2 separate regions of the Homo sapiens genome follow, and region 2 is linked to region 1. Evidence: fine-mapped expression QTL. A gene starts in region 1. The other region holds a variant in brackets. All regions are shown on one strand. Distances are from middle to middle.

Region 1 (16,830 bases):
AATAGAATGTAAACTCCATGAGAGCAGGGATTTTGTCTGTCTTAGTTGCAACCTAAAATAATGTCAGACACATAATAGAGCTCGGTAAAGACCTGTTGAATGAATACCACCCACATAGCTGGAAGTTGCTTGGGAAAGTGGCAGAAAGATCAAGCTGACTACAGAAATCAGAACCAGCATAAAAGCCAGTTAGCAGCTTGAACAGAGGGCTGAGGTACTTTTTTCCAACTATGTGTCTTCCTTACTTCTCTGGCACATGAAGCCTTTACCTATTCTGAGCACACAACAGGGCAAGGAGGTATACACAACAGCCTCTAGGGTGCAATGGGCCACCTTCACAGTTAGCTGACAAGAATTCCTCATGGCACCAAATAGGCAAAGAGGGACCTCCATATGTCAGTGGGAGCTCTTGGGCAGCCTTGATACCAGAAGGAGGAAAGTTACCCAGTGGCAGGGCAAGATCACAAAGCCAACAAGCACTCACTAACCCCCAGCCATGCTCAGCCCTCACCATTTCATTTGGCTCACCCCTTGTCTCTTGGCAGTCAAAACCTTTCAGAGTGCATCTATGCACTCAGCCATCCTTCACTGTAAGTACCCCCAGTCTCTCAGAGGAGGAAACCAGGTCCATCTGGCTGCACCTCCATTTTGCTAGCAGCATTTGTTGAGCTTCAAGCACACTGGGAAGCCAAGAGTCATCTTTAGGGGAATGAGGAGGACCACACGAAGTGGTTGATGATGGTAGTGTTTGTTGTTTTCATTGTTGTGTATTGTTTGTTTGCTTGTTGTTTTGCCAAGTGTAGTTACAAGGTAGTATCAATCAAGCCAGCTGATCGGGTTATTAATAATAGCTACCATTGACTGGATACCTACCATATGGGTGGCACTATGCTAGGGTTTGGTATACACCATGTCACATCCTCACAACCCTGTAAAGTATATGAAATCTTCATTTTACAGATGAGGAAGCTGAGGCTCTGAAGTGAAACAACTTACTCAAGACAACAATCCCAAAGCCCTTGTTCTTCCCACTATTACACTGCATCATTATTATTTAATATTAATATATACTTGCATAGAGTATTTTTTACTCACCAACTGATATGGTTTGGCTGTGTCCCCACCCAAATCTCATCTTGAATTCCCACGTGTTGTGGGAGGCACCCAGTGGGAGGTAACTGAATCAAGGGGGCAAGTCTTTCCTGTGCTATTCTCGTGATACTGAATAAGTCTCAGGAGATCTGATGGTTTTAAAGAGAGGAGTTCCTCTACACAAGTTCTGTCTCTTTGCCTGCTGCTGTTTACATAAGACATGACTTGCTCCTCCTTGTCTTCCACCATGATTGCGAGGCCTCCCCAGCCATGTGGAACTGTAAGTCCGTTAAACCTCTTTCTTTCGTAAATTGCCCAGTCTCGGGTATGTTTTTATCGGTAGCATGAGATTGGTTTTTTTTTTATCTCACCACCCCCCACCAAAAGTGAAACAACTATTATCACTTCATTTTAGATGTCTAATGACTTGTCCAAGGTCACTCAGTAAGTTAATCACTAAGACTAGATGTAACTTGATTTCCTAGTCCAATATATTTTCTATATTTAATAATAAAATGTGCAAAACATGACAGGATCCCCAAAATAGCAAGAATTAAGATGAGGGAAGTTTGCTGTCAAGGTTAAAGCAGTCCAGTGCTTTTCACAATCCCTTGCTAGGCTGGGAAGTCCTCTTTGTTGCAGGGTGTTATCCTCAGATTTTCTCCACACACTCCCACAATACTCTGCCTTACCCTATTTCGCCAGCAATAAAGTGTGTACTCCTTAGTGGTCTCTGATGGGGGGAAGAATGATGATTTCAGTTCTCAGAAATCCCAATGGGAAACAACAGTTACAAAGTGCCCTGTGATCCACCGCTTTTTGACAAGGTGACCTTGGGCAAGTCACTTCACTCTTAGTTTCCTCAACTATTAATATAATCCAAGGAGAGTAATAGTTCCTGTCTCCTAAGATTAAATGAGTTAAACGCATGTCAATGCTTTTAGTATAGCACCTGAGCCATACAGTAAGCACTCACTAAGTGTTGCCTGTTATTATTGTACTGTATGGTTTCCGTATTCTAGGAGACTGCCCTTCCTCCATGTGACCATCCGCAGAGGGTATCTGAGGGAAAATGCTTTTGCTCTTTTGGGGATAATTTAGAAGTAGAAGAGGCACTGGATTAAGTAGAGTTATTTCCCAAGGTGGCTTAGACCCACTTGCTTCCATTCACTCCCTCTCATTTGTATATGTGACATTTATTGAGAACCTACTCTATGAGAGTTCCTAGGGATTCAAAGATGAATAAAATGTGGCCCTGAACAAAGGGATCTCAGTCTAGATCAGGGCTTTTCAACCCCATCACTATTTTTGTTTGGTTGGTTGGTTGGTGGGTTGTTTTTCCGAGACAAGGTCTCGCTCTGACGCCCAGGCTGGAGTGCAGTGGTGTGATCATAGCTCATCTCAGCCTTGAACTCCCAGGCTCAAGTGATCCTCCTGCCTTAGCTTCCTGAGTAGCTAGGACTATAGGCACGAGCCACCACACTCAGCTATTTTTCCCCCTTTTTTTGGTAGGGACAGTGTCTCCCTGTTACCACGGCTGGTCTTGAACTTCTGTACTCAAGTGATCCTCCTGTCTCAGCCTCCCAAAGTGCTGGGATTACAGGCATGAGCCACCGTACCAGGCTTCCCTCTACACTATTGACATTTGGGACTGGATAATTATTTGGGCTGGGGTCTGTCCCGTGCATCATAGGATGTTTGGCAGCATCCCTGACCTCTATCCACTAAATGCCAGTGGCACTGTCACAACCCCACCACCTCATCGTGTTAGCTAAGAGTAGCCCCCAGTTGAGATCTACTGGTCTGTTTACAACTAACTATAATATAATATGATAAAATATGTTTGTGCAAAGTGTTGAGTGGGCAGTGTGTTGGAGGAGCAACTGACTGCAGGGAGGAGGGTTCAGAAAGGCTTCTGAGGAGGCAAAATTTGCACTCAGCATTGAAGGATGAGAAAGACTGTGCCAAGCAGTGAAGGAGGGAATGAGTATTGTGGACTAAGGTAACAGTGGCACAGAGACATGGAAAGTATGCAGTGCTGGGGAAACTGTCGCCTCAAGTACATGGAAGGATGTGGTGGAAATAGGACAGGAAGTCCACTGGGACTAGATTTACAAAGAACCTTGCATGTGAGCCTAAGCAATTTAGACTCCAGCCTGAAAGCAGAAATCCAGCGTGGGAAGGAAGAGAAAAAAGCACATTCGTTTCTTGGAAAGACTTACCATCCTCAACTGGGAAAAGATAGAGACGATGGACAAAAATGAGTAATTCCTTCTTTTAATCTGGATTTTCTTTCCAGTTATGGATTGGCTCTTCAGCCCACAGCTTCTATACTCCTCGAAATAAGAGGGAAGAAAAACTAGAGAAGCCCTCCTATTTTAGAACACAAGATTCACTCAAGAAAAAGACTCAATTTTACTCCTCCAAATAGTCCTTGAAGCTACTTGAAAACCTCTCATAGCAGAAACTGATATATTCTTTTGGTTGATGTCTTTTTATTTTAATTTTCAAAAAGTTTAGGAAATAGAAGCACACAGGGAAGTACAGAAAATAATATAACAAACATCCTGTACCCATTACCCAAAAATTTCTTTAAGAAATAGAAAAGTACAGAACACAGCTAAAACCCAAGTTAAAGAGAGTTTAGGTTTTAGATAGATACTTGGGCAGGAGGACACCTGGCTAACATTTGCAGCATCAGACATCAGTGTGCAGGTTCTGGATGAAGGGCTGTCCCACCTAGTCTGTCCAAATGGGCCCATTTCAAAGACAATGGTTCCCTAACCCAACTATATCCAATGCCCTATGCTGACCTACTCAAGGAGATTCTAGGTCAGTGGGTCTAGGTTGGGGCATCGGAAACAGTATGTTAAACAAGTTCTTCACGTAGTTCTGCAGTGGCAAAAACCAATGCTTGAAGCAATAACATAACCTGTCAACCTATTCATCTGTTGATAACAGATCCTGCCTCACAAGTTTACTGTGAAGATTAAATACATACACACAAATTGCTTAGCACTGGCTTATAAGAAGCCCTCAATAATACTTATTAACAATAATCAATGTTCACTGAGTACTTCTTTAGTGTACACTACGGTACAAGGGTCTGCAAGAAATTCAAAGGTATATATCAACCTCTCCCTGAAGGCAGAGTCTGAGTTTATCTTACTCACTCAATGCCCTGCACAAAGCAGACACTCAAACAATACTTATTGAATAAATGAGTGAAAAAGTGGCCCTGATCTTCAAGGAAATTACAATCTGGTTGTGTTATAAATAGTATATAAGAAACTGGGCAGGGGCCAGGTGCAGTGGTTCACGCCTGTAATGTCAGCACTTTGGGAGGCTGAGGTGGGAGAATCACTTGAAGCCAGGAGTTCAAGACCAGCCTGGGCAACATGGCGAGATGCCATCTCTACATAAAAATTAGCCGGGTGTGGTGGTGCACTCCCAGCACTTTGAGAGGCTGAAGCAGATGGATCACCTGAGCTCAGGAGTTCCAAACCAGCCAAGGCAATATGGTGAAACCGCATCTCTACCAAAAATATAAAAAAGTCAGTTTTGGTGGCATGCACCTGTGGGTCCCAGGTACTTGGGAGACTGAGGTGGGAGGATCGCTTGAGCCTGGGAAGTGGTGGTTGCAGTGAGTCGAGATGGCACCACTGCACTCCAGCAAGACCGCAACTCCAAAAAAAAAAAAGAAAAAAAAGAAAAGAAATTGGGCAGGACCAAAATATTAAACTACTGGTTATACGCAGTGTAAAGAGGGCTAATCAAAAGTCTAGGGTCTGAGTCCCACTTTGCCACCAATTAGCTGTGATATCTACCTGGTCAGTTTACTCCCTGAGCCTTAGTTTTATCCTCTTGGAGTATTAGGCTATGTCTGGGTACTAAGGACCCTCCCAAGAGGATCCATCACCAAGATCAAGACAGGAGCTGTAGGCAGGGGAGGTGGCAGCATGGGTGGTCAGGAATGCTTCAAGAGGGCTAAAGTGGCACATCTAGAGAAGGAAAGAAAAGGGGTAGAGGCTCTCCCAATATACAGGAATGGCAGGAGGAACAAGAGAGGTAAAGTGTTCAGCCCAGTCTTCAACCTCTGCCACTGCACCAAAGCTAAAAAACCAACTATCATCAAAACTACCTTATCAACCAGGCCAGAGCCCAGTAAAGGAGAACTTTAAACTCCCAGTAAAGGGAGTTTACCTCCCAAATAGGCTCATCTCTTCATAAAATATATTTTCCTTTGAAAATTATTAACTTGTCTCCTGAAAAACATAACCACCAGGACTTCACGCTAGAAAACCCAACCCAGGAGCTCAAGGAAGATGGTGGCAACTTTGAGTTTTCCTCACACCACATCTGTGACCTCAACCCTCTTCTTAACCCTGTCCCAGAACCTCTCTGTCATGGATCAGCTACTCCCAAAGGCAAGTATGACTTCTCTCAGCTCTGCCCTTTCTCAACCTGACAGCTGTAGCACAACATATTCAAAGGAGAGGCCAAGAAACCCCCCTGGTTAAGAACCAACCTCCGCAGCCTTTATTGAGAATGAAGAACGATGAGCTGATTTGAATTATTATATCTTTCTACAGCTATTCCCTTTTAAATATTTATCCTGGCAAATACCAGCACCGTTTTTTACAACTTATTTGAATTGTGTGACTATTAAGCAAACCAACCCATAAAATCAGCTCTTGCTGCTGGGGTTTATGTGATTCATAGACCACAGCTTATTAAAAAAGGGAACCCACTGAGAACAGACTAGCCTCACAAGTGCCCCTCACTATCTCTAGGACAGTGTCAAGCCTTTTCCCAATTCTTGCCTGTGGCTCCCAAACTACCACAGTTAGTAGCATAGAACATGAACAGAATCTACCCATTTCCTTATGGCTCTTTTTCTTTGTAACAATTCTGATGAGTCTTAACTGGAAGTCAGGGTTAGAACAGACTTAAAGGAGACAGTCAAAACTCTTAAGAGGCTCACAAACAGGATAGATGCCGTAGAGGATTTACAGTCAACATCTGTGGAAAGAACTTAATTGAGGACTTTGAATAGCTAGGAACAAGCATGAGATATCCTGATTATTCACCACCAGCTTAGTTCTTGTTTGGATCATAAAACTGCTTTGAGACTCCATAAAAGCTCTTCACCAAAAATGCCCATGCACACAAATGTTTATATAAAATTTCAGGAAATTCAAGGACACCCCTGAGCCCATCCACAGTTCCCCTAGGGGTCTATAAGCCTCAGTTATTTCTTACTATCACTGTTACCACCCAAGCTGCCTTCATCTCTCCCCTAGATTATTAACATAGCTACCTGACTCATCTCCCAACTTCTCTACACAACAACCAGAGTGATAGTGATCCTGTTAAAGCTTAAGTTAGATCACATGACTTCTCGGCTCAATACAATCCACTAGCTTCCCTTCTCACCTGGAATAAAAGCCAATGTCTTTGCAATGTCTTACAAGACCCTACAGGATCTGTCTCCTTGCTCTTCTCAACCTTAACTCCAGCTGCTCTAGCCACATGGATCTCCTTGCTATTGTCCTAAATGACAGTCACATTTTTGGCCTCCAAGCCTTTATCTAATGCTCCATCTACCCTCAATCTGCATGAGGCTGACTCATTTCTTCAAATCTTTTCTCAGTTGTTACTTGTCAGTGAGGCCTTTCTGACCTCTATTTAAAACTGCCACCCTGCCCCTACCCCGCATGTCCCACCCTCCTCTGCTTTCTTCTTCTCCATGGCACCCACTGACTTCTTACACCTTATACATTTTACTTCCCTGTTTGTTATTGATCTCCCACACTAGTTTGCTCCATGAGGGCTGGATTTTTGTCTGCTTTGTTTCGCTACTGTATTACACTCCTGGAATTGTGCCTGATGCAGAGTAGGCACTCAATAAATACTTGACTGACCAATCAATGACTGAGTGATTACACTCTGTAGTGGTATGAATGTATCCAGGCTGGGTGGTGCAGGAGAATGTACATTTATTGAAATGCCTCTAAGTGCCAAGCAGTTTGCAAGCTGACATCAGTCATCTCATTTAATTGGCACCTACAATCCCAAGAGTTATTTTTATCCTCATTTCACCACCAACCCAAAAATGAAATACTTAAGCATAAATCTAATACAATATGTACAAGAGGTGTATGAGGAAAACTACAAAACTCTAATAAAAGAAATCAAAGACAAACTAATCAATAAATATTCCATCTTCATGGATACAAATACTCAATATTGTCAAGATGTCAGTTCTTTCCAATGTAATCTGTATATTCAATACAATCCCAATCAAAATTCCAGTAACTTAGTTTGTGGATATTGGCTTTAGAAACTGATTCTAAAGTTTATGTGAAAAAGCAAAAGATTCAGAATAGCCAACACAATATTGGAGGAAGAGAACAAAGTTGGAGGACTGACATTATCTAAGTTGAGACTTGCTATAAAGCTACAGGAATCAAGACAGTGTGGTACTGGTCAAAGAACACACAAATAGACCAATGGACCAGAATACACAGCCCACAGACAGATTCACATAAATATAGTCAATGATCTTTGACAAATGACCAAAAGCAATACAAATGAGAAAACAGTCTTTTCAGAAATGGTGTTAGATCAACAAGGGATCCATATGGCAAAAATTGAATCTAGATAGATCTTACACCCTTCACAGAAATAAACTCAAAATTGATCCGGGACCTAAATGTAAAACTATCCCCATTTCACGGTGAAAACTGAGACCCGGAAAGTTAAGAAAATAGATGAAAGTTACAGACAGCTGGTAGTGGAACATAATTCAAACCTGTCTGTGCAAATCCAAAGCCCTGCTCTTCCTACCACACTTTGCCTCATTCTCCTTGGTAGAGTAGTTCCCACTTTTCTTTTTTTTTTTTGAGACAGAGTCTCGCTCTGTCTCCCAGGCTGGAGTGCAGTGGCGCGATCTCGGCTCATTGCAACCTCTGCCTCCCAGGTACAAGCGATTCTTCTGCCTCAGCCTCCTGAGTAGCTAGGATTACAGGTGCACGCCACCACCTGGCTGATTTTTGTATTTTTAGTAGAGATGGGCTTTCACCATGTTGGTCAGACTGGTCTCAAACTCCTGACCTTGTGATCCGCCCATCTCGGCCTCCCAAAGTGCTGGGATTACAGGCGTGAGCCACCACACCCAGCCAGTTCCCACTTTTCTAAAGAAGTGCAACTGCCGGCTTTCGTACCTAGTTCCATTTCTTGTGTACCTAGTTCTATTTCACAGCAGGGGACCTGAATCAGAGAGAATCAGGGGGTTCAGGGAGCTCTCATCAAGCAAAAATCATTTACAGCCTAAGTCTTTGCAAGTTTATATCAAATATTGTTATGATATAATAAACATCCTTCTAAGGGATCTTATCACTTCCAGAGTTTTATTCATTCATTCCATTCACTCATGAGTTTCATTCATTATTCACAGATATTTGTTGAGTATCTACTATGTGCCCAGCACTGTTCTAGGCACTGAGCATATAGCACAGATGCCACCCTCTACATGTAGGTTTGAAATCTAAGGCAGTGTACTCTAACAGAAATGTAGTGTAAGCCAAACGTGCAGTTTTATATTTTCTAGTCACCACATTTTCAAAAAAGTAAAAATAAACAGGTGAGATGAACTTTACTATATTTTATTTGACATAACATATCCAAAAAAATCATTTCAATAAATAATTAACATAAAGATAGGATAGTCGTGAGTTGTTTAACAACAGGATACCTTCTGAGAAATGCATCGTAAAGTGATTTTGTGATGGGAATATCATAGTGTACTTACAAAACCTAAATGATATGGCTGACTATATACCTAAGCTATATGGTATAGGCTATTGCTCCTAGGCTATAAACCCATACAGCATGTACTATACTGAATACTGTAGGAAACTATAACACAATGGTAAGTATTTGTGTCTCTAAACATAGGCAAAGCACAGCACACACACACACACACACACACACACACACACACACACACACACACACAAAGGTATAAAAGAAAATGGTCCAAGGTGGGTGGATCACCTGAGGTTGGGAGTTTGAGACCAGCCTGACCAACATGGAGAAACCCCGTCTCTACTAACAATATAAAAAAATTATCCAGGCGTGGTGGTGGGCACCTGTCATCCCAGCTACTTGTGAGGCTGAGGCAGGAGGATCACTTGAACCTGGGAGGCAGAGGATGCAGTGGACTGAGATTGTGCCATTGCACTCCAGCCTGGGTGACAAGAGCGAAACTCCATCTCAAAAAAATAAATTAATAAAACCACACACATAAACAGCACAGTTGTATAAAAATATTTTTCTTTTTTTAAATAAATATTTTTATTTCTTATAAATATGTTGCCTAGGCTGGTTTTGAACTCCTTCTGCCTCAGCCTCCCAAAGTGCTAGGATTAGAGATGTGAGCCACTGTGCCCAGCCAATATTTTTGCTTTATATCCTTATTCTATAAGCTTTTTCCTATTAAAAAAAATTCCTTTTACTTTTAAAACTTTTTTGTTAACAAGACAGAAACACACACATTAGCCTAGTAAGCCTACAGAGGGTCAGGATCATCAATATCACCATCCTCCACCTCTACATCTTGTCCTACTGGAAGGCCTTCAGGGGCAATGTCACACGTGGAGCTGTCATCTCCTCTGATAACAATGCCTTCTTCTGGAATACCTCCTAAAGGACCTACCTGATGCTGTTTTACAGTTAGCTTTTTTTTTTTCAATAAGTAGTAGTATACTCTAAAATAACAATAAGGCTGGGCATAGTGTTTCATGCCTGTCATCTCAGCACTTTGGGAGGCCGAGGCAGGCGGATCACTTGAGGTCAAGAGTTTGAGACCAGCCTGGCCAACATCGTGAAACCCCGTCTCTACTAAAAATACAAAAATTAGCCAGGCGTGGTGGCGGGTGCCTGTAATTCCAGCTACTCAGGAGGCTGAGGGAGGAGAATTGCTTGAACCTAGGAGGCAGAGGTTGCAGTGAGCCAAAATCCTGCCACTGCACTCCAGCCTGGGCGACAAGAACAAAACTCTGTCGCAAAAAAAAAAAAAAAAAATTATTAGCCCATTGTGGTGGCAAGGGCCTGTAATCCCAGCTACTTGGGAGGCTGAGGCAGGAGAATCACTTGAACCTGGGAGGCAGAGGTTGCAGTGAGCCAAGATCGTGGCACTGCACTCCAGCCTGGGCGACACAGCGAGACTCTGTCTCAAAAATAACTAAATTAATTAATTTAATTTAATGACAATAAAAGGTATAGTATACTAAATATATAAACCAGCAACATCGTCCTTTATTATCATTATAAAGTTTTATATACTGTACATAATAGTGTGTGCTATGCTTTTATACAACTGGCAATGGAGTAGGTTCGTTTCCACCAGCATCTCCACAAACACATGAGTAATGTGCTGTCACTATATGATAGGGATTTTTCAGCTCCATTATAATCTTATGGGACCACCCTCATATATTTGGTCCATTGTTGGCCTAAATGTCATTATGTGGTACATATTATTAATGAGATATTTTACTTTTTTTAGTATGAATTTTTTGGTGTGTATTTTCTTCACTTATAGCACATCTCAATTCCATGCAACATTCAAGTGCTCAATAGTCACGTGTGGCTAGTGATTACAGCATTGGAAAAAGACAGATACGGTTGAGGAAACTTAAAAAAATGTAGCAAATGTAGTTGTAGAGACGTGCTCAAGATCACTCAATTATCATAGCTAGGACGTGAGTCTCCAGCGACCTTCCAATTGCCTGGTTGAACCAAAGCCCTGGTTCATTCTGCTGCGCATTAAAAGCAGGCTTTACTCCCCTCCAAACAGTAGAATCGCAGTTAAACTTAGTCAAACAAACTTAATGTATCCAATACAAAACTCATCTTTCTAACCCTAACACCTCCTCTTCCTCTCTATTTTCTATTTCAGTTGATGGTACCATTATGTTTCTGCTCACTCAAATTATTATTATTTTATCCATAAACGAGCACTTTATCTAGAAGATCATTTAAATTCTAAATGATCTTCAAAAACGCACTTTACTCTCCACCCTAACTAGCTGAATCATCTCCCACATGGGTCACTATGAGAGCCTTCTGATTTGTTCCCTTGCCTCAGTCTCTCCCCACCCAGCTTCAGCAGTATTCCCTAAGACTCTTCATGGCTCTCCGTCCTCTACAGAGTAAAGACGACACTCTTCATCACACAGCACAGAATTCTCTCGGGAACCTGTTCTTTGCTTACCTAACAAGGCCCAGTTGTTTGCTCTTCCTAGACTCTGAAGAGGTCACTTACCCTCAGGCTGCTACATTTGTAAAAATCGCCATCCCAACTCTCAAAGAGCTGGCTTCAGATTTGAGATAATACACTTTGAATGATATACAATCAAGGAGTTTCTCCTCCATCACTCCTTTACATTTTATATCTATCTGCTGTTTAGTGCCTCGTCTCAATTCCATGAAAGCTACTGAATACAAACTATTTACTAGGGAGTCTGCGGGACACAAACAGAGGGATTATATTTAAAAAATAGATTGACGCGATCTTTGCCTTCCCCGACCTCATTACAATATAGTTTCTCCACCAATATCTTTAAAAACAGATCCTCTCTAACAGTATGAGAAAATCAAGGGGAGCCTCGGAAGTTCAGGCCAGGCTGCGTTCCGAGGAGCCGCCACGTCCCCCCACCTCCGCTTCCCGGGCCGCGATTGCAGGTTGAAAACTACTCCCAAACATCACAGGGCAGGCAGAATGCAACTACGACCCACGTGGCAGACGGGGGCGGGGACCGGTCGCGTGGCCGCGGCCTTGGCTCTTGCGCCTGCGCGCTGCCTCCCGCTCTAGGACCCGGATTTAAAGAGACAGGCGCTCCAACCGTCGTGGGCTGCCCGCGGCCTGTAATGAGCAAGTTCCGAGGCCTACGGTGAGCGCCGGAGCCGGAGAGGCAGGTGAGGGGCTACGCGGCGCGGCACGGCGCGGCGGGGCCCGGCGTGGGGAAGGCAGCGGGCCCGGGGCGAGGAGCTCGGCGCGGCCGGGGAGCCAGCCCCCCGGCTCCTCCCCCGCCCGCCTGCGGAGCCCCGGGGCACACCCTCCGTGACGTGGCGGCCCTCCCGGGAGCCCAGGGGGAGGCTCGCGGCTCCCCGGGACCCCCACGGGGCCGCGTGAGGCGGGGAGGCCGGCGCCCGGGCTGTGTTCCCTGTGGAACCCACGGGGCCTTCTCGTACCCTGGCCCGGCGTGCGTCCTCCTGCGCTGAACCGGGAGCGCTCGGGTGGGACTCAGGGAGCCTTGATCACTTCCCGCCTGCGTCCCGGACCCGGTGGAGGAGCGCTCCTTTCTGCCTCGCCGGGGGTCGCGGCCTACGCCGCCGACCCCACTGTCCCCGCCACTCTCCGACAGCGGCGCGGGAAGCCCTTCGAGAAAAGCGGCGGCGGCCAGGCCTCAGCGATTTCCTTCTCGGGCCCCTGGGCTGCGGCAGTTGTGAGGGTGCGGAACGAGGGACAGACGGGTTTCCTCAAAGCTGCATTGTGCCTCCTCGTGGCCCAGCGCCTCCCGAGCCTCCCTCAAGTCCACTCCTTTCATTATTGGGGCCCTAGAGGTTGCTCTGTAAATTGATCTTCTAGGAAAAGTGTTGAAACTCACTTGTTCTGACCTCCTTTTATGGGTCTGCCGTACTTCCACTTACCTCACCTCTGTGGTTCTTAAACTTTGGGAGTTATATAGCCCTTTGTGAATATCACGAAAGTGATAGACCTCCTCCAAAAAACCGTGCATTTTTATCGAATGTACATTTTGTATACATTTTTAGAGAGCTCAGAACAGCCTCCCTCCCCCACAACCAGCGCATTCATGGATTCCTTGTAATTTTCCCAACTACCCTGTGAGGTAGGTATTATTTACCCTGCTTTAGAAATAAGAAAACAGATGCAGATAAATTAAGAGTTTTCTCCGAGGTAACAGTCAGTAAACTGTACAGTCAGACTTGCACTCCCATCCCTTATTCCAGGTCCACCAGCTTTCCTTCACATCATGTTGCACTACAGTAAGCAAAGCCTGCTTTTTATTATAACGTGACAGCAATTTTGCTTCACAGCGTGTGCAGACTGAACATAATTCCAGTATACTTAAAACTAGGACTATAAAATGCTTTAGAAAACATGAATATAAGAAGATGCTGATATAATCTTTTTCCATTTGGATTGATTTATGAGTTCCTGTGAGTCTTGCTGCCCAGTGACTTCAGCATTCTCTGATTCAAGTTGCTGAATGATAAACAGGTTAATTGCACATCGGAAGCCTCTTCTTGAAAGATAACGACGTCACCGATCATAATAGGAGCTGACGTTAATGAGAGCTCTTGCTGTGTGCCCAACTGTTTTAAGGGTTTTACTCTTAGAACAGCTCTTTAAGTTAGGCCCCATAATTAGCCACATTTTACAGATAAGGAAGCTCAGGAACAGAGGTAAGAAACCCATCAAGGTTATACAGCTGGTAAGTGGCTGAGTTAGGATTTGAACTCAGGCAGTCTGATTCCAGGCTCTGCTTAGTTGTCTCTCAATATAGGGATTCTAACTCAATTCCAAATCTATATAGTGGCTTGATTTCTGAGGATGGCATATGTGTTAAACTTCACAATAAAAACTTCATGAACATAATGTAATTTTTACTGGTGATTAAAACGAAACTTCAGGGCCAGGCACGGTGGCTCATGTCTGTAATCCCAGCACTTTGGGAGGCCGAGGCGGGCGAATCACCTGAGGTCGGGAGTTGGAGACTAGCCTGACCAACAAGAAGAAACCCCGTCTCCATTAAAAATACAAAAAAGTTAGCCGGGCGTGGTGGCGCATGCCTGTAATCCCAGCTACTAGGGAGGCTGAGGCAGGAGAATCGCTTGAACCCGAGAGGAGGAGGTTGCGGTGAGCCAAGATCGCGCCAATGTACTCCAGCCTGGGCAATTAAAGTGAAACTCCGCCTCAAAAAAAAAAAAAAAGAAAGTTCAGGATCTTGTAATACTTAAAGGTCATCATCCATTATGAGTATCATATGTTGCTGATGGCCTAAAAAGAGCTTTTATGTTATTTGGATTTTCTTCATTGTGATGTACTAGATGTACATGTGTGCATTAGATAATTGAACATCCTGCTGCGAGCTGGCTTTTCCTGTATCAGAACTCTTTCATGCTGTAGAGTAGACTATGAATGTAATACTTTGGAAAGTGTTTGATTAGTCATCATGGACTATATAAGACGCTGGCCTTTGGAAAATTGGAAGCCTATCTCCTTGTTTATATCTTTTTTTTTTTTTTTTGGCCTCCTACTCTTTCGTACAGCTATATGTCTTTGGCTTTCAAGATCTTCTTTCCACAAACCCTCCGTGCACTCAGCCGAAAAGAACTGTGCCTATTCCGAAAACATCACTGGCGTGATGTAAGACAATTCAGCCAGTGGTCAGAAACAGATCTGCTTCATGGACATCCCCTCTTCCTGAGAAGAAAGCCTGTTCTATCATTCCAGGGAAGCCATCTAAGATCACGTGCCACCTACCTTGTTTTCTTGCCAGGGTTGCATGTGGGACTCTGCAGTGGCCCCTGTGAGATGGCTGAGCAACGGTTCTGTGTGGACTATGCCAAGCGTGGCACAGCTGGCTGCAAAAAATGCAAGGAAAAGATTGTGAAGGGCGTATGCCGAATTGGCAAAGTGGTGCCCAATCCCTTCTCAGAGTCTGGGGGTGATATGAAAGAGTGGTACCACATTAAATGCATGTTTGAGAAACTAGAGCGGGCCCGGGCCACCACAAAAAAAATCGAGGACCTCACAGAGCTGGAAGGCTGGGAAGAGCTGGAAGATAATGAGAAGGAACAGATAACCCAGCACATTGCAGGTAAGGTAGAGAACACTGCTTTCTCATCTTACTGGTGCTGAGAGAAAAAGGGATAAGGAGTTCAACTGCTTTCTTTCTCTTTTTTTTAACTTTGCTCTTTTAGAGATGGGGTCTCACTCTGTTGCCTAGGCCAGTGTTTAATGTTGCATTCGTAGCTCACTGCAGCTTTGCACTGCTGGACTCAGGTCATCCTGACTCAGCCTCCCAAGTAGTTGGGATTACAGGCGCATGCCACCATGCCCAGCCTTTAACGTTTTATTTGGAAATAATTTTAAACTCACTGAAGTGTTGGAAGATTAAAAATAGTACAAAGAACATTCATATTCCTTTTACCCATATTTACCTATTAACATTTTACTCTATTTGCTTTATCATATTTGTTCATGTGCTGTCTCTCTCTACATACATACACACGTGTGCGTGCACTCACTTTAAACCATTTGAGAATAAGTTGCATACATCATGGCCCTTTAAAATTCTTCAGTGTATATACCTTAAGAATAGGATATATGACCCTTATGCGACTATAATATAGCTATCATCTTCAGAAAATTTGTCCTTGATGTAATACTTAAATCTACCATCTGTATACTATTTTGTCAATGGATTGAGTCATACCTTCAGTAGCCTTTTCCTGCAGTATAGGATCCCAGTCTAGGATCATATCAGGTGTTGCATTTAGTTGTCATGTTTCTTTGGCCTCCTTTAATCTGAAATATTTCCATAGTCTCTCTTTTATGACATTGATATTTTGGAAGAATAGAGTACTGATTACTATCCTCTTTTACTTTTTTTCTTGTAGCATATAATTCATTACTGTACTTAACTAATTTGATACTTAATTGTCCCATATTTGGCCAATTAGGAACCCCTTTACACTGTCCTCTGTGTCCTGTATACCTTCATTAACTTTTTTTAATGTACTTCTTTACTCTTGAGCATAGCAAGATGCTTTTAGTCTTATCCCGTATGTATCCTTCCCCAGCCCTGAAATTGGTAATTTCTCTGGGGATTCCTGTTAGTGGGAAATGCCCCTGTTAAAGAGTAAAACCTGGATACTATGTGTCCACATTGTCATGGGGTATCTGTTTCTTCTTTTTTTTTTTTTTGAGAGTCTCACTCTGACCCAGGCTGGAGTGTAGTGGCACTATCCTGTTAGTGGGAAATGGTATTAAAGAGTAAAACCCGGATACTATGTGAACACATTGTCATGGGGTATCTGTTTCTTCTTTTTTTTTTTTTTGAGACAGAGTCTCACTCTGTGACCCAGGCTGGAGTGCAGTGGCACTGTCTTAGCTCACTGCAACCTCTGCCTTCCAGGTTCAAGCAATTGTCCTGTCTCAGCCTCCCAAGTAGCTGGGACTACAGGCACTTGACACCACACCCAGCTAATTTTTGTGTTTTTAGTAGAGACAGGGTTTCACCATGTTGGTCCAGCTGGTGTTGAACCCCTGACTTCAAGTGATCCACCCACCTTGGCCTCCCAAAGTGCTGGGATTACAGGCCTGAGCGCCCAGCCATGGCATGTCTGTTTCTAAGCCCTTTCAGCAGACAGAGCTAGAAAATATGTGCGTGTATATGCATGTAAAATTCATACCTATATATGGCTATATATAACATGTTTGCATGTACATGCATATTTACATATGCATATTTTAGAAATTTTATGCCAATACCCCCAAATCCAGTTAGTCCTCTTTGACCTTCAGTGTCTGTAAAATAATGTTCATATCTTCAACTTAGTTCTGGTCACCATAGGAAGACAGTTAACAATGGCTCTAAAAATGGGTATCTGTCCTTGTTCTTTGAAAGGAAAAAAGACTTC
Region 2 (16,830 bases), 96 kb after region 1:
GGTATTATAAAATGTTCCCTGTTTTATTTCCTCCCCTTCAGTGTTTTCCTTTCAGAAAATGGCTTTGTTTAAAGAAGTTTCCCTATAGTACATGTTAATTAGTCCTTTCTGAATGATAAACACATCTTTATAGCAGCTGACAACCATTATCTCTTCAACCACACTTTAAAAAAAATTTCTGTAGTTGATGATAAGTTACAAATTCTAGTATGAAACAACTCTCAAGGTACAGACAAATATGGAACCTCCTTCAGAAAAAAAAAAAATGATTAGAAAAGCTCCTGACCTGTTCTGTATTTGCGAACTTTAAATAAGAGGGCCGGGCACAGCGGTTCACGCCTATAATTGCAGCACTTTGGAAGGCCGAGGTGGGCGGATCACCTGAGGTCGGGAGTTCAAGACTAGCCTAACCAACATGGAGAAACCCCCATCTCTACTAAAAATACAAAATTAGCCAGGTGTGGTGGCACATGCCTGTAATCCCAGCTACTCGGGAGGCTGAGGCAGGAGAATCGCTTGAACCCGGGAGGCAGAGGTTGCAGTCAGCCAAGATTGTGCCATTGCACTCCAGCCTGGGCAACAACAGAGCAAAACTTCGTCTCAAAAAAAAAAAAAAAAAAAGAAAGAGAAAATCCAGACAGTACTATGCCCAGGAGACAGATACGAACTATATAAAGAGCAGCCTGAAGGCCAAAGGCATGGAACTCCTAAGTTGACTAAGAGAAACACCATTGAGCAAGTGAACAGAGCTGCTGCAGCTTATCATTCCCCTCTTTGGGACTCTGATACAGTTTTAACCAACTGCCCCAAATTATAGCCACACTCCATCCTAGTTCTTCCTTTTAAAGTGGAAAGGTTGAGGATTACATTTTAGAGCTTAAAAAGGTACTCGTTTGAACTAGTGGTTTCAGGCACTTGAGGATTTATGAGGTTACATGAAAATTATGAGAATATGAGGCTATGGGAGAAATAATAACTGTGGCTTTCTGACTAAGTTCTTTCAATACATTATTTTAAAATTAGCCAGGCATGGTGGCATACACCTCTAACCCCAGCTACTCTAGAGGCTGGGGCAGGAGAATCACTTGAACCCAGGAGACAGAGGTTGCAGAGCCGAGATTGCGCCACTGCAATCCAGCCCAGGCGACAGAAGGAGACTCCATCTCAAAACAAAAAACAACAAAAACAGAAAATACGTTATTTTAAAACTCAAGTAACTTAACACCCAAAACTATTTATGCTTTTTTTAATAGGGTGGTCTCAACAGATATTTAATGAGTGTGCATATGTGTATGTGCCCATTGTTTCATTTGAACAGACATATGTGATGTCATTGACATCCCAGATTTACTTTCTTTTCTGCAATAGATCTTGACATTATAAACAATAAGCAGGTTTCAAAAGAGAAATTAAAATATCCATTTCTCAGGATTCTGTAGTCTTCCAAATCCACAGAAAATTACCAAATACATACAGAAGATCTGGGAGGATGCACACAGCAGGGAGAGCACTGTAATGGGAATAAAGATCAAATAGCTATGTTTAGCTTTATCCAAATTACCCCCCAAAAATCATGAATTTTTTTACAACAAGCATATATTCAAATATGACTTGGTAGTTTAAAATTCAGTTAAAATTTTAAAGTTTGTATCACTTACAAACTGCTTTACTCTCTCTTCACACTCTTTCCTCTCAACATCTCCCTTTTATCTACTTCCCTACCCCCAGCATCCTAAATGATACTGCACATTTCTTGTTTTTAACAAAATTAATCTTACTTGTGTCCACATCCTTTTTCTAACTGAGAAGTCGGTGAATGGATAAATGCACATTTCCAGGAATCAGTGCCTGTCTCACCTTGTTGATAATTAATGATTGCCAAATTCTAATCTTGGTGTTCAGTGACCTCACAGCCTTTTTTTTTTTTTAACTATAGAACATAGTATTTAAGAAAAACAATATGATGGCAACCAAATATTTATCATCTAATAAATCACAGAAATTAAACATGAAAAATGAAGTAAACTTTATGATACTCAACAATTAACTCTAGGGGTACTTAAGAATCAACAGGGGTGCTTATTGAAAATGAACATTTCTCATCCCAGTCCCTCAGACACTCTGAATTAGCAGACATGGAGGGAGGCCCCAGAAACTGAATTTTTTTTTTTTTTTTTTGAGACGGAATCTCACTCTCATCGCACAGGCTGGAGTGCAATGGTGCAATCTCAGCTCACTGCAACCTCCACCTCCTGGGTTCAAGCAATTCTCCTTCCTCAGCCTCCCAAGTAGCTAGGATTATAGGCGTATGCCACCATGTCTGGCTAATTTTTGTATTTTAAGTAGAGACAGAGTTTTGCCATGTTGGCCAGGCTGGTCTCGAACTCCTGACCTCAGGTGATCCACCTGCCTCAGCCTCCCAAAGTGCTAGAATTACAGACGTGAGTCACCATGCCTGGCCAAAACTGAATTTTTAATAAGTATCTCTCTCTTCCAAGCCTTTTTTTTTTTTTTTTTTGAGACAGAGTCTCGCTCTGTCGCCCAGGTTGGAGTGCAGTGGCACAATTTCTCGGCTCACTGCAACCTCCACCTCCGGGTTCAAGCGATTCTCCTGCCTCAGCCTCTCAAGTAGGTGGGATTACTATGCACCACCAGGCCTGGCTAATTTTTGTATTTTTAGTAGAGACGGAGTTTCGCCATGTTGGCCAGGCTGGTCTTGAACTCCTGGCCTCAAGTGATCCGCCCGTCTCAGCCTCCCAAAGTGCTGGGATTATAGGTGTGAGCCACTGCGCCCGGCCTTCCAAGCAATTCTGATACAGATGGGCCTTGGATCATGTTTTGAGAAAAAGGACACAGCTATGTTCCCTAAGCACTGTTTAGAGTAAAATGAAAAAAAGTTTTTTCAAAGACCTCCAAGCTGAACAGTAGTCACACTGAGCAGGTCCTAAACATAAGTCCGCTCACCCACAAGAACCACAAAAAATACAAACTGTATTCACTTTGTTGGTTGGACCATTATTTTCTTCAAGCCTTCAGAGACAATTATCCTAACTACCATTAAGGATTTCACCTGTCACCCACAGTCTTGTTATACTGAGACATTTTCACACCTGGATATGATACAAGGGGCTTAATGGAATTTTTATGGCTAAAAATTAAAGTTCATTTGACTCAACAGAATAGTCAAATAAAACAAAGGAGAAAACCCAAAGGAACAGGTTGAAAGTAGAGGCTTTTGACTTCCTGATGAGCCAATTTTGCCCAGAAATTCAAACCATGGGATGCTATATAGCTCATATGTCTTGAGAGTGCCCAAATGTCAACTTATCGCCAGAGTATCAGCCAGTGCAGGCTTACAGTAACATTTGGAAGCACAAATGTGCTGTATAAAATGGCCTCTCCTGGGAGATAGAGGCTGTCGCCATGGCAGAGATCATTCCATCTTGGGGCCAGAAGGACCAGGCAGTCCCTTTAATCTTTAACAAGCCACTTTCACATTTAGATACAGGAACTGGCACTGCATGAGGCTCAACCTGCTTCACAGCACTTTGCTGCAAAACAACCCCCCAGTTGTGTGAGGGCATGCTAACCCAGTCTGTCCCCACTGGTGCAGTTACCAGAATCTATTCTATAATGCAATTGTGAGTACTTTATTATCCACTATGGTGTAATACTTCATAGCTCAGAAAAGGTATCCAATATCAAGAGGCTAGCAACTGCCTACCTCAGGCACAATGAAATACTAGGTTCCTGTATGTCAGTAATTGAAAAAGTAGCAAGCATGCAGGAAAAGAAAGAATCCAGAGGGGTCAGGACCCAGCCTGAGGACCCGATGGAGGAGGAGGAGGAGAAAGGAAGTCAGCAAGAAGTCAGCAACATGACCAAACTGCTATCTTGGGCAGCTCATTTCAGAAACCCAGCAACAGAAACCTTGGAACCATTTGATGGGTATAATTTTCTATATAAGGCTATTTCTTAGTTTTCTGTTTTTTTTCCCTGAGCAGCTAATACAGTAGAAGGGCAGGGAAAAGACCCCTGTCATCAAACTCCATCACCTAAATTCTAATAGCTTCATAATGAAGTGACTTAGCAGGCTCATGTCCTATTACTACCTTGCCGCAGTAACCATACTCTCAGAAAAAAGATTCTGTAATTCAACTCTGAAGATTGCCTGAATTCATCATTCTTCTTTTCTGTATACCTCTGAATTCGTCTCTTCTCCTAATACACACACTCACATGCTCTGTCTCCCTGACACACATGCCCTGCCTCCAATAAGTCAAACTTCCTAAACGTCTACCCTGGTTTCCACTAATAATGCCCCAAGATTAACTTACCTTTGTTCATGTCCCCAAGTCTAGGGGGCCTTTGTCAACACGTGTTTCATCTTGAAGGGTGATTTCTAGCCAAGTAGATAAGATTACCTGTTCACCTACAGTTAATCTTCAACCTGGTTTCTGCAGGCTATAGAAATAAAAGGATACGACTGCACAGCTTGAATGTCCCATCAAGGTAATCAAAGTAATGGAAGAGGGAGAGAAGGCAGAAGGAGAGATTTCAAAATAAAGACTGAACTGTGTACTTCAGTAGTACTTAGGAAAACACTCCATCTGACTAAGCAGCTGATGAGTAGACAAATACCCAAAGGACTGTGCATTCTCTGAAGATTATTGTGCTCACAGTTCTCACTTCCCCCAAAGTTCTGCAAGAGATCACATCATAAAATCAGCCTTGCATTATTTATAATAAAGTGGAGAGATGCATCCTAACATCCAGTATTCTACTGATTTACTCACAAATAAAGCTAAAACCTTATTTCAACTGAAACCCATGTAACAAGGAAGAAAACGTATTTTCTTTAGGTCTTTCAAAGGTACCTCTCTCATCCCTTTTATAACAGAACAGACAAGGGTTGGAGAAAGGAACCCAAAGCTCCATCCCAGGTCCTAAATGCTTTAAAAAATTCACATTAAAAAATGCTCCATAATACATTACCCATTTGAAAAAAAGCACTGTGAACAGCAGGGGGGAATATATATTTAATTATATATGATAGATACACACATACATATATATACATACACACCGAGAGAGGGAGAGCACGCGCACGTGCAAAAGAGCGAGCGAGCACGCACACATATACTAAAACCATTTAATAGCAGTTATTCCTAGTAGGGATGGGGGTCTAACTTCTACTTTATGCTATTTTAGCTGGGTTTTGTTTTGTTTTTCTGAGACAGTTCTCACTCTGTCACCGAGGCTGGAGTGCGGTGGTGTGATCACAGCTCACTGCAGCCTTGACCACCCTGGCTCAAGCAATCTCCCACCTCAGCCTCACGAGTAGCTGAGATCACTGGTGCATGCCACCATGCCTGGCTAATTCTTTTATTATTTGTAGAGATGGGGTCTCAATATGGTTCCCAGACTGATCTCAAACACCTAGGCTCAAGCAATCCGCCTGCCTCAACCTCCCAAAGTGCTGAGATTATAGGTGTGAGCAGTTTAAGTTAATCGTATTAGAAATAAAGTACCTAAGACCATTTGATAACATAAACCAAAACAATTTGAAAAAGTTTTTAGGGCCTTTGGAAGCCAAATTTTGAGTACATTTAAAGCTACAGTCATGGAGGCAAAAGTATAAAAAATTAACAAGAAATTCACAGTTTTGAAATTGTATTATTTGTCTATGGGCAGTACTGTACTGGGAGTGCTGTGCTATCTATTGCTGGGTAAAAAGAGTTTGTCTAGGGTCTTGCTGTCAAGGAAACCATGGCAGGGGTGCTAAAAAGCCAGTCAGCAGACCACTGTGACACTGTATGGAGGCAGATTCATTCAGAGAGCTAAAAATACAACTCAAAAATCTTCTATCTTTGTCAGTCGAATCAGTTTTACTAAGTAATCTGATGAACTTAAAAACCAGATATAACACCTATTAGAATAGCTAAAATTTAAAATGGTGGCCAGGCACGGTGGCCCATGCCTGTATTTGCAGCACTTTGGGAGGCCACGGCAGGTAAATTGCTTGAGGCCAGGAGTTCGAGACCAGCCTGGCCAACAGGGCGAAACCCAGTCTCTACTAAAAATACAAAAAATTAGCCAGGCATGGTGGCACATGCCTGTAGTCCCAGCTACTTGAGAGGGTGAGGCAGGAGAATTGCTTGAACCTGGGAGGCAGAGGCTGCAGTGAGCCAAGATTATGCCACTGCACTCCAGCCTAGGCTACAGAGCAAGACTCCAACTCAAAAAAAAAAAAAAAACAAAAATTTAAAAATGATGACAATATCAAATGCTGGTGAGGATGCAGAGAAACTGGATCTCATACACTGCTGGTGAGACTGTAAAATGGTACAGCAACTCTGGAAAAGAATTTAGCAATTTTGGCCCGGTGCGGTGGCTCACCCCTGTCATGCCAGCACTTTGGGAGGACATCGTGGGCAGATCACTTGAGGTCAGGAGTTCAAGACCAGCCTGGCCAACATGGTGAAACCCTGTCTCTACTAAAAATACAAAATTTGTCTGGTAGTGGTGGTGCACACCTGTAGTCCCAGCTACTTGGGAGGCTGAGGCAGGAGACTTGCTTGAACCCAGGAGGCAGAGGTTGCAGTGAGCTGAGATCGCACCATTGCACTCCAGCCTGGGTGATAGAGTGAGTGAGACACTGTCCAAAAAAAAAAAAAGTTTAGCAATTTCTTTGGAAAACTGAACATACACTTACTTACCTTAAGAACCAGCAATTTCATTCCTGGATGCTTAACCCAAAGAAACTAAAACTTGTGTCCATACAATCACCTGTACACAAATGTTCATTATGGCTTCATCTGTAATAGCCCCAAACTGGTAACAACTAAAATGCCCTTCCGGTGAATAGTTAAACAGCCTGTGGTATATACACACCATGGAATACTACTCAGAGATAAAAGGAACAAACTATTGCTGCCACACAATAACTTGGATGGATGGTGTGACACTAAGTGAAAAATGCCGGGTTCAAGACCAGCCTGGGAAACACAGTGAGACCTATCTCTACAAAAAATACATTCGAGGCTGGGTGTAGTGGCTCACACCTGTAATACCAGCATTTTGGGAGGCTGAGGCGGACAAATCGCTTGAGCTCAGGAGTTCAAGACCAGCCTGGGCAACATGGTGAAACCCTGTCTATAAAAAAAATACAAAAATTAGCTGGGTGTGGTGGTGCACACCTGTAGTCTCAGTTACTCAGGAGGCTGAAGTGGGAGGATGGCTTGAGCTAGAGAGGCAGAGGTTGCAGTAAGCTGAGATTGCGCCACTGCACTCCAGCCTGGGCAACAGAGCCAGACACTGTCTCAAAAAAAAAAAAAAAAAGTTCCAATTGTTCTATGCATATAAAAGTAAAAAACAAAAAACCCAGTCTTAAAAGGTCACATATTGGGTCACATACTGTTATGATTCCATTTCCATAATATTTCTGAAATGACAAAATTATAGAGACACCGAACAGATTACTGGTTTCCAGAGATTAGGACAGTAGGGAAAACGGATATGCATGATAATAAAGGAGTAGCACAAGGGGGATCTTTGTGGTGGTAGAACAGTTACACAAATCCATACATGTGATAAAACAGCAGAAAACTACACACACACACACACACATGCACACACACACAGAGCACCATGTCAGTTTCCTGGTGTTGATATTGTACTATGGTTAAATGAGACATAACCAATGGGAGAAAAACGGGTGACGGGTACATGGGAACTGTGTAGTGTTTTTGCAACTTCCTGTGAATCTA[T/C]AATTACCTAAAAATAAAGTATAAAAAAAAAAAAGTGGTCGGGCGTGGTGGCTCACGCCTGTAATCCCAGCACTTTGGGAGGCCGAGGCAGGTGGATCACCTGAGGTGGAGAGTTCGAGACCAGCCTGACCAACATGGAGAAACTCCGTCTCTACTCAAAATACAAAATTAGCCAGGCATGGTAGCGTGCATCTGTAATCTCAGCTACTCAAGAGGCTGAGGCAGGAGAATCACTTGAACCCAGGAGGCAGAGGTTGCAGTGAGCTGAGATTGTGCCATTTCACTCCAGCTTGGGCAACAAGAGTGAAACTCCGTCTCAAAAAAAAAAAACATGAAATTATTCAGTCAACTGTCCAGCCACTACGGGGAGCTAAAAAAGGCAAAATGTTTATAAAGTATAGCATGTTTCATACTATTTTGCAGTCTCTACTATGCAGGAGAGATGATTATTTAAGCATAGATTGGTTGTTGGCCCAACTATCTGAAATACATTCAGGCACTACCTGTGCCCTATCCATCACAATATTTTTATCGAGCCTCACCAAAGCCATGAGTAATGGGCCAGAAGGCTGCAGAAGTAACTAGTCCAGAATGAATGAACTCTCACTGCAATTTTAGCTCAGCAGACAGTGCCTGCTATCAGAAACATCCAAAAACCACAGCAATTAGACAAATAAGTTGTGAAAGATGTGGTTTCCAGGTAAGATGTGACAGGCTTCTTACCGCAAATAGTTTTTCTTATAAAAGAAGAAAGACTGGTGGGAGAGATGGTGGAAAAAATGAAAACAATGTTTCTTCTATGATTCTCTGGCCCATCCTCACAGGACTTCATATGTAGTGAAGGCAGAATATTTGCCTCAAGCCCAGATGACCAACTTTTACTTTCTACACTGACTCAGGCTTCTTACTGAAAATGGTATATCACCATTTACTCCACTAACATCACTTACAAGATGAGGCCCTATGGGGCACTAACATCTATGTATCTTATGTAGAATTCAATTAATTGGGAAGGCCTATTGACAAACAGGAAGACCCCACACACAGACACACACGCACACACACACACACACACACAAAACAAAAAATAACCACCAGTGAACTCTTCTCTAACCTAATGCTTTATTTATTTAGCCAAATGTGCTTTTAAGGGTGACTGGCTTACACATCAAAAACGTTTACAATTTTAGAATAAACTATAAAACATCCTTCAGCACTAACAAAGCTAAAACTAGTAAAATAAGTAACAAGTATTGCTAACATCATTTTTAAATCACATTCCACACAAGTAGGCCCATGTAGTTTTATGAATAAAACTATTCTTTTTTATTTTAAGAATTAAAAAGTGATGTTAGTGGAATAAATGGTGAAACACCATTTTTAGGAAGAAGCCTGAGTCAGTGTAGAAAGTAAAAGTTGGTCATCTGGGCTTGAGGTAAATATTCTGCCTTCACTACATATGAAGTCCTGTGAGGATGGGCCCAGACAATCATAAAAGACACATTGTTTTCATTTTTTCCACCATCTCTCCCACCAGTCTTTCTCCTTTTGTAAGAAAAACTATTTGCGGTAAGAAGCCTGTCACATATCTTACCTGGAAACCACATCTTTCACAATTTATTTGTCTAATTGCTGTGGTTTTTGGATGTTTCTGATAGCAGGCACTGCTTGCTGAGCTAAAACTGCGGTGAGAGTTCATTCATTCTGGACTGGTTACTTCTGCAGCCGACATATTTGTAAAGACTTATTCAAAAGGTAATCATCCTGACGGAGTGTGAGGCAGCTGTCACCCAGTAGTTGACAGCTCAACCTTGACAGCTGGAATACTTGGGTTCCAACACTGTGAGGCTTTGGGCCCCCTCTTTAATTTCTCTGTGCGGCATTTTCACATTTGTGGAACACAGATAACACCTACACACCTCATAGGATTGTTAGGAGGATTAAACTTGTTAATACAGCAAAGTCCCTGGCACCTGGAGAGCACATAATAACTGTTGGTAATTTTCCTACAGGTAAAATATGGCACAAAGAGAAGTATCACATAGCAAAAGAAGTGCTAGTCTTTTGATCAGTCTTACACAAATTCTCCCATACTTTTAGACAAGAATAAGCCTTCCCCTAACTCCCACTGAAGAATGCATACAATTTCATTCAGAAAAAGTATCATCTGACACAGTGGAATGAGTGAAATAAATCCTGCTGAACATGCCCAATGCTTCCCTAGCTCCTGTGGCCAACATACAATTTCAATAGGAAAGGGGATTGTTTGTAAAGACAGTTTTATAACATCTGTCACCAAACAACAGTGAAGTTCAAAGTGAAAATTCAAGATTTCACATAGCAGGCAGAGGGACTTTCAAAAACATCTGTCCTCTCACTCCTGTTCCCCATCCCTCTTTCCTAATCAAGGTTATAATAACGCAAGCCCTCTGTAAGCTGGCACACAAGCTGACAACATGCTACCCTGCTGAACAGTCATCAAGGAGGAAAGAAAGGCCCAGGGGGCTGCTACAACATTTCCATAAACCTCTTATCCTTAGCTAAAAAGGTAAATTTGTTCTAGAGATGCTTAAAGAAAAAACACTTGACTGGCATAACCTAGACACATGCAATACCTTTTTCCCATTTCTAGTTTTCTCAAGTATTCAGGGAATGACCATCGACATTTTTGGAATCAGAAACAAATTGTTTCCAAAAGTGTTAAGCAGTGCTTGTCCAAAGGCCCCCATATAGCTAGTAATTTAGACAGCTGTGTTAGGAGCCACAGAAGCTGCATTTTCTAACCAGTATTGCTTGTGAACAATTGAAACTTTCTCCAGTGCAAAGTCCAGACACAGGAAGCAGTGTTCTCCAAAAACATTCAAACAGTTTCATTATTGTTTAACTACCAAAATAACAGCTCCAATAATCTATCAAGTTTGACATTTCATCCAACTAAGCAATTAAACCAGGATGAAAAGCATGCATGGAGAGATTTCCCTGCCTGCTCCAAATCAACACTAATTTTGACATTATAACCACAAAAACTAATAATGCATCCTCGTAGACTATTCACAAAAGGCTTCTAAAAAGCAAACACAAAAGCGTCTCGAAGAAATTGCACACCCCTAAATTTTATTTTCTGTCTCCCATCTTTAAGCATCTTAACTGTGAGTTAAGTTACAGGCCAAGAAGTTAGAAACTCCTTTCCAGTATTTAGTCAAAAAGAGGGGAATATGCCTCCCAATACAAGCACCCAATGCAAATTCTATCAATTTATTCTTTTTTTTTTTTTTTTTTTTTTTTTGAGACGGAGTCTTGCTCTGTCTCCCAGGCTGGAGGGCAGTGGCATGATCTTGGCTCACTGCAATCTCCACCTCCCATGTTCAAGGGATTCTCCTGCCTCAGCCTCTCGAATAGCTGGGACTACAGGCGCGTGCCACCACACCTGGCTAATTTTTGTATTTTTAGTAGAGATGGAGTTTCACCATATTGGCCAGGCTGGTCTCGAATTCCTGACCTCAAGTGATCCGCCCGCCTCAGGCCTCCAAAAGTGTTGAGATTACAGGCATGAGCCACCATGCCCGGCCTCAATTTACTCTTAAATATATTAAAGGTTGGCTACTGTGGGCACATTGCCTATAGGGTAGCCCTGCTCTGCAAGGAGCAGTAATTTTAAAAATAATAGTAAAAACGCCGGGCGTGGTGATTCATGCCTATAATTGTAGCACTTTGGGAAGCCAAGGTGGGCAGATCACCTGAGGTCGGGAGTTCAAGACCAGCCTGACCAACATGGAGAAACCCCATCTACTAAAAATACAAAATTAGCCGGGTGTGGTGATGCATGCCTATAATCCCAGCTACTTGGGAGGCTGAGGCAGGAGAATTGCTTGAACCCGGGAGGCGGAGGTTGCGGTGAGCCAAGATCGCACGATTGCACTCCAGCCTGGGCAACAAGAACAAAACTCCGTCTCAAATAATAATAATAATAATAATAATAATAATAATAATAATAATAGTAACAGAAGCCAGATGATGAAGGGAACATCATCGTTTGGAAAGCATCACAATAAGACGTGACAGGACGTACCACCTTCAGAAGTCGACCTGTGGCAAATGTGGCTATGCTGCCAAGCGCAAGAGGAAGTATAACTGGAGTGCCAAGGCTAAAAGACAAACTACCACTGGAACTGGTCAAATGAGGCACTTAAAAATTGTATACAGCAAATTCGGGCATGGATTCTGTGAAAGAACACCACCTAAACCCAAGAGGGCAGCTGCTGCAGCATCCAGTTCATCTTAAGAATTTCAACAATTAGTAACACAATAAATGTTCTGGTTTTTAAAAATAAAAATAAAATATATTAAAATAAATTATATATATATTAAATATATATAAATTATTTATAATAATTAAATAAATTAACTATATAGTTCCTTAACTAGTCCCTAAGTATTATCAACTTTGGTTCTGACCTAGGAAACCACCAAGTCATGAAACTTCTCTCCCCAGGTAGGAATGGGAGCTCTCAGATGGTAGCTTCAGTTATAGGTGGCATGAGGAAGAAAATGATCAAGGACCTCTGATATCAAGTTCTTAAGATGTCCTAAGAACCACTTAGAACAATGCTATTCAAAGTGTGTGTGTCAGACTGCTGGAGGCCCATTCACGTCAAGATAAAACACAGAAAATCACAGTAAGCATTTAGAAACTTTTCTAGTGCTTGACATTGCTGTGACATCCAAGTGCATGATTTTTCTGGTGATTCCCTTTTCTTGTACTTTACACAATTATTGGCTGGCAACAGATTAGGGGTGAAGGGAAACCCTTACAAAGCTGGTCCTTCACCACAGATAGTTTAAGAAGCACAAACTTTTCACACTATGAAGTGCCAGTTCAGTCATTATTGTTCTGAAGGAATCAAAGTACCTTTGCCCTCATTATCTTATAGCTTCTGATTTAAAGGCAATCAGATAAACCAGCAAGGAGGCACCCTGGCATAATCCAAGCTTGATCAACCCATGGCCTCCGGGCCCAACACAAATTCATAAACTTTCATCAGCTATCATTAGTGTTAGTGTATTTTATGTGTGGCCCAAGACAATTCTTCTTCTTCCAATGTGGCCCAGGGAGGCCAAAAGATGGCACACCCCAGACTATAATCTAATGGAAAGAGCACAAATCCACAGTAGTCAGCCAACCTAGCTTCTGGTCTGCAAGAGTCAAATAACTAGCTGGATATCCTAGTTAAGTCTGAGCCTCTTGACTTTTCTGTGCTTTAAATTCCTCCTCTGCAAAATAATAGCATTTCTCAATCTTTTTTTTTATGTGTGGTTCTTTCTCACATAAATTCTTTCTCCAAGTGGGGTCTACAGATAAACTACATCAGAATCCCACATCTCTATCCCAAACACTTTGATTCTGTAGGGCTGGGCTAGGAACCAGGAATCTTTATTTTTTACAAGCACCTAGGAGATTTTTGATCATAGTAAAATTTAAGATCTATTGCAGTAAACATATAACCTTACTAAAGACTTCAGGAATAAAAAAAAAGGTCACGATTTGTATGTAATCTCCAATAAAGAAGTTATTTGATTTTTATTATTTTTTTTCTGGAGACAGGGTCTCACTCTGTTGTCCACACTAGAGTACAGTTGTGCAACCATAGTTCATTATAACCTCAAACTCCTGGACTCAAGCAATCCTCCCAACTCAGACTCCTGAGTAGCTGAGACTGCAGGTGCACAACACCACATCTAGCTAATTTTTTGTATTTTTTGGAGACAAGGTTTTGCTATGTTGCCCAGGCTGGTCTTGATCTCCTGGGCTCCAGTGATCTGCCTGCCTTGGCCTCCCAAAGTGCCAGAATTACAGGCATGAGCCACCAGGCCCGGCCCAGAAAATACATTCTAATATGCTTTCATAATATGTGTAATACATAACAGCAAATTTCCATTTTTCCCCATCTTAAAAAGGGATAGGCTGGGTGCAGAGGCTCACATCTGCAATCCCAGCACTTATCCCAACACTTTGGGAGGCCGAGGCAGACAGATCGCTTTAGGTCAGGAGTTCGACACCAGCCTGGCCAACATGATGAAACCCCGTCTCTACAAAAAATACAAAAATTAGCTGGATGTGGTGGCACACGCCTGTGGTCCCAGCTACTCAGGAGGCTAAGATGGGAGAATCACGTGAACCCAGGAGGCAGAGGTTGCAGTGAGCCAAGATGGCACCACTGAACTCCAGCCTGGGTGACAGAGTGAGACACTGTTTCAAAAAAAAAAAAAAAAAGTGATGTTTGGTTGGGAAGACCAACGGTATATCAAAACACACAAACATTTAACTAGTGGCATCAAAAACTGCTTTCCTGACACGATATTCAGAACTCGAATATGGTATATCGATCCCTCCCAAATAAAACTAGAGGCTTATTTTTATGTTTGTGTTCCTGGGATTACAGGCACGCACCACCATGCCTGGCAAATTTTTGTATTTTTAGTAGAGACGAGGGTTTCACCCTGTTGGCCAGGCTGGTCTTGAACTCCTGAACCCAAGTGATCCACCCACCTCAGCCTCCCAAAGTGCTGGGATTACAGGCGTGAGCCACCGCCCAACCTGTTTGTGTTGTTTCTAAAACAACAACATAAGGAGAAAGATTTCAGTCTGTTTTTTTGCTAGCATTTCCACAAATAACAACAGAGCTATAGATAGCCTGTATCTCAAATAAAAACCTAATTAGATAGTAATTGTCAACGTATTTTCCTTTTTAATACTGCTTTTGGGTAGTGCAAGAGACATGTTGATGTGCTGTGGTGAGGATTTTATCAAGTAAATGCAATTTAAGAATCTGATGAAGATCATCTAGAGGTGAAGCTGCAGAACTACTATCATTTTAATGTCCCCCATTAATTGGTGGGCTCACAGTCACTATTCCTCAAGCTTCTGGTCTCTAACTGTGTCAACATTTCAGAGTTGGGAAACACTGAACTAGATCAATGGGAGTGGTGGGGATGATTCAGAATCATCTGAAGTGCTGGATTCAACCATATGGCCAAGGGTACAACAGGAAGGTGGAATGCCCTTTGACAAGCTGAGAATATTCTGACATCCCTCTTCCCACCCTCTCAGTAAACAATGGCTAAGGTATACTTTAGCTCTGACACAGAAGGATTACACAAACTCTTCCATCAGTATATGATAAGTAGACAAACATAAGAGAATCTGGAAGATTAAGAATTCTCCACTGTGGACTGGGAAAGTCCTCATCTCATAAATTATTCCTTCCCACCCCTGCTTGCACATAATTTTAGCCCCTAACTATTCCTTTCCACCCCTTGACAAAAATCCAGATTCCTCAAACTAGCTGAATTTCAGTGGACCTACTCCTGCTAAGGCCCTAGAAAACACTCCTTCCTCTCTCTCCAAATTAGAACATTCCTTTGCCCAGCATTTTAGAATAAAGCATATGCTCTGGCTGATCTTCCACACCATGTAAAATAATAATTAGTATAGTTAAGATGGTACAATCCAACCCAACTGCAAATGGTTATGCATCTACTGACGCAAGACCTAGAAGAGGGTTGGAAGTTGATAGAGGATGAAGCTTGGTTATTTCTCAGGCACATATTTTAATCATTATGAAGGTAAAAAAGCATGGGAGGATTAGCAGAAAATGCAGAGGGTAGGGCACATAGTTTTTTGTATATTTTAGGATAAAATACGTTGATTCAATTGCCACTAAGACTATATACATGTGATCAGTACCAAGACTGGAAAGATTTTCCAAAGCAAATGAAGAGTAAAACAAGAAGAGGGTGAGGTGGGAGAGGAGGATGCACGATTTACTTAAGAAAAGCTTTTTTTCCTTTCAAATCTTTTAACATAATCCACCAGCAGTTGCAAATAAACAATGGTGTTGATCACTAATAAGTTGCATTTAACCACTCAGAAGCCAGCAGAGCCTCCACTTGGCCTAACTTCCTGTAAGTTTCAAGATGAGTAGGCAGCATTTCTTTAAAAAGGACCAAGACAGTTAAAATGTTTCAGCAGATCATACTGGCTGCCAAGTAGTTCAAATCCAGGTGGATTTCCCCTACTCTTAGAACTAGCCACTGGTAGAAACAAGTGACTGTCCCAGGGAACACTCCACAACTCAGAGATAATGAAAACATATTTTTATATGTAATTCTAGAAAAGGCATGTGAACATGAAAACAGAAAATGTAGGTTTAACTGTAGCATTGCAGAGCGGCAGCTTTAAAAAGTCAGATAACATTAGCTCAACAAAATCATACACTGAAGTGTGCTCAAATTCAAATTCAGCACATGGCGGTAGTAGCAGTTGAAAAACGCTGCTGAGAGAGCAAGAAGGTTTTGCTGTATCTTTTTAGAGGAGAGGACAATGAAGAAATTACCAGACCAAGGTCACTTTTCAACCTAAAAAAAAAGTGGGGGTTAGTAGCTTTAACAGAGATAAAAACCTGTGTAGGTTATAACTCCATGAAATCAGTAGCCTGGTGAGTGTCTCTCCAAGAATCTTGCAGGAAATTAAGTGTGGATTGAGTAATTAAATGTAAAGTCTCCTTGAGAGTAACTTCAGTTATTGAAGACTATATATTTCTGTGAAACATATAGAAAAATTATGAGGAGGATTTACTAGGTATCACATCACAGCCTTTCTCCTTTCACATCAGGTTGGAAACACTATGATCTAAAAAGAATAGAACGATTTGGGAATTGTTCATTCTCTAGTCTTTGCAAAAATTCACGTGCTAGTGTAACTGTAATATACTTAGGAGTTTCCAAAAATGGCACACATTTCCTCAAGAGATGTAGAAAAAAATAATCTCTGGGTAAAAGGCCAAACATTGTCTCTTCTGAATGCTTAAACAGCCAATTATGTGTCTAATACATTAATTATATAAAGAGAGAGAGACTATTACAGGAAAGTTGAATAAGACATCTTAAAAAAATGTACCCTGGGGCCTAAGTCCATTCAAATGACAGTAAAATCACCCCTCAAAAAATCAGTTTTATGGAACATCTAGTATTTTAATTTTCCAGCTGCCAACAGAAATATATA

Direction of the effects. Alleles are on the strand shown, and positions count from the first base shown. SD is a standard deviation of normalised expression in the study named.
With allele T in place of C in region 2, the expression in stomach of the gene that starts at base 11,965 in region 1 is higher (moderate effect, 0.42 SD a copy in GTEx).

What was found.
Region 2: its variant is fine-mapped to the expression of LIG3 in stomach (GTEx, PIP 0.90).

The regions. Positions count from the first base shown.
Region 1 is chr17:34,968,548-34,985,377 of GRCh38, forward strand. LIG3 (DNA ligase 3) reads left to right here and starts at 11,965. Exons shown (of 20, transcript NM_013975.4): 1 at 11,965-12,075; 2 at 14,455-15,005. The coding sequence starts at 14,459. RefSeq lists a silencer at 11,990-12,419.
Region 2 is chr17:35,064,957-35,081,786 of GRCh38, forward strand. All of the region lies in intron 5 of RAD51L3-RFFL (RAD51L3-RFFL readthrough), which reads right to left. It also overlaps a transcript of RFFL not described here and the pseudogene RPL37P22. Among named protein-coding and RNA genes, the nearest start is that of RFFL, 9.7 kb to the left of the region's middle. The variant T/C (reference allele first, on the strand shown) is at 7,770.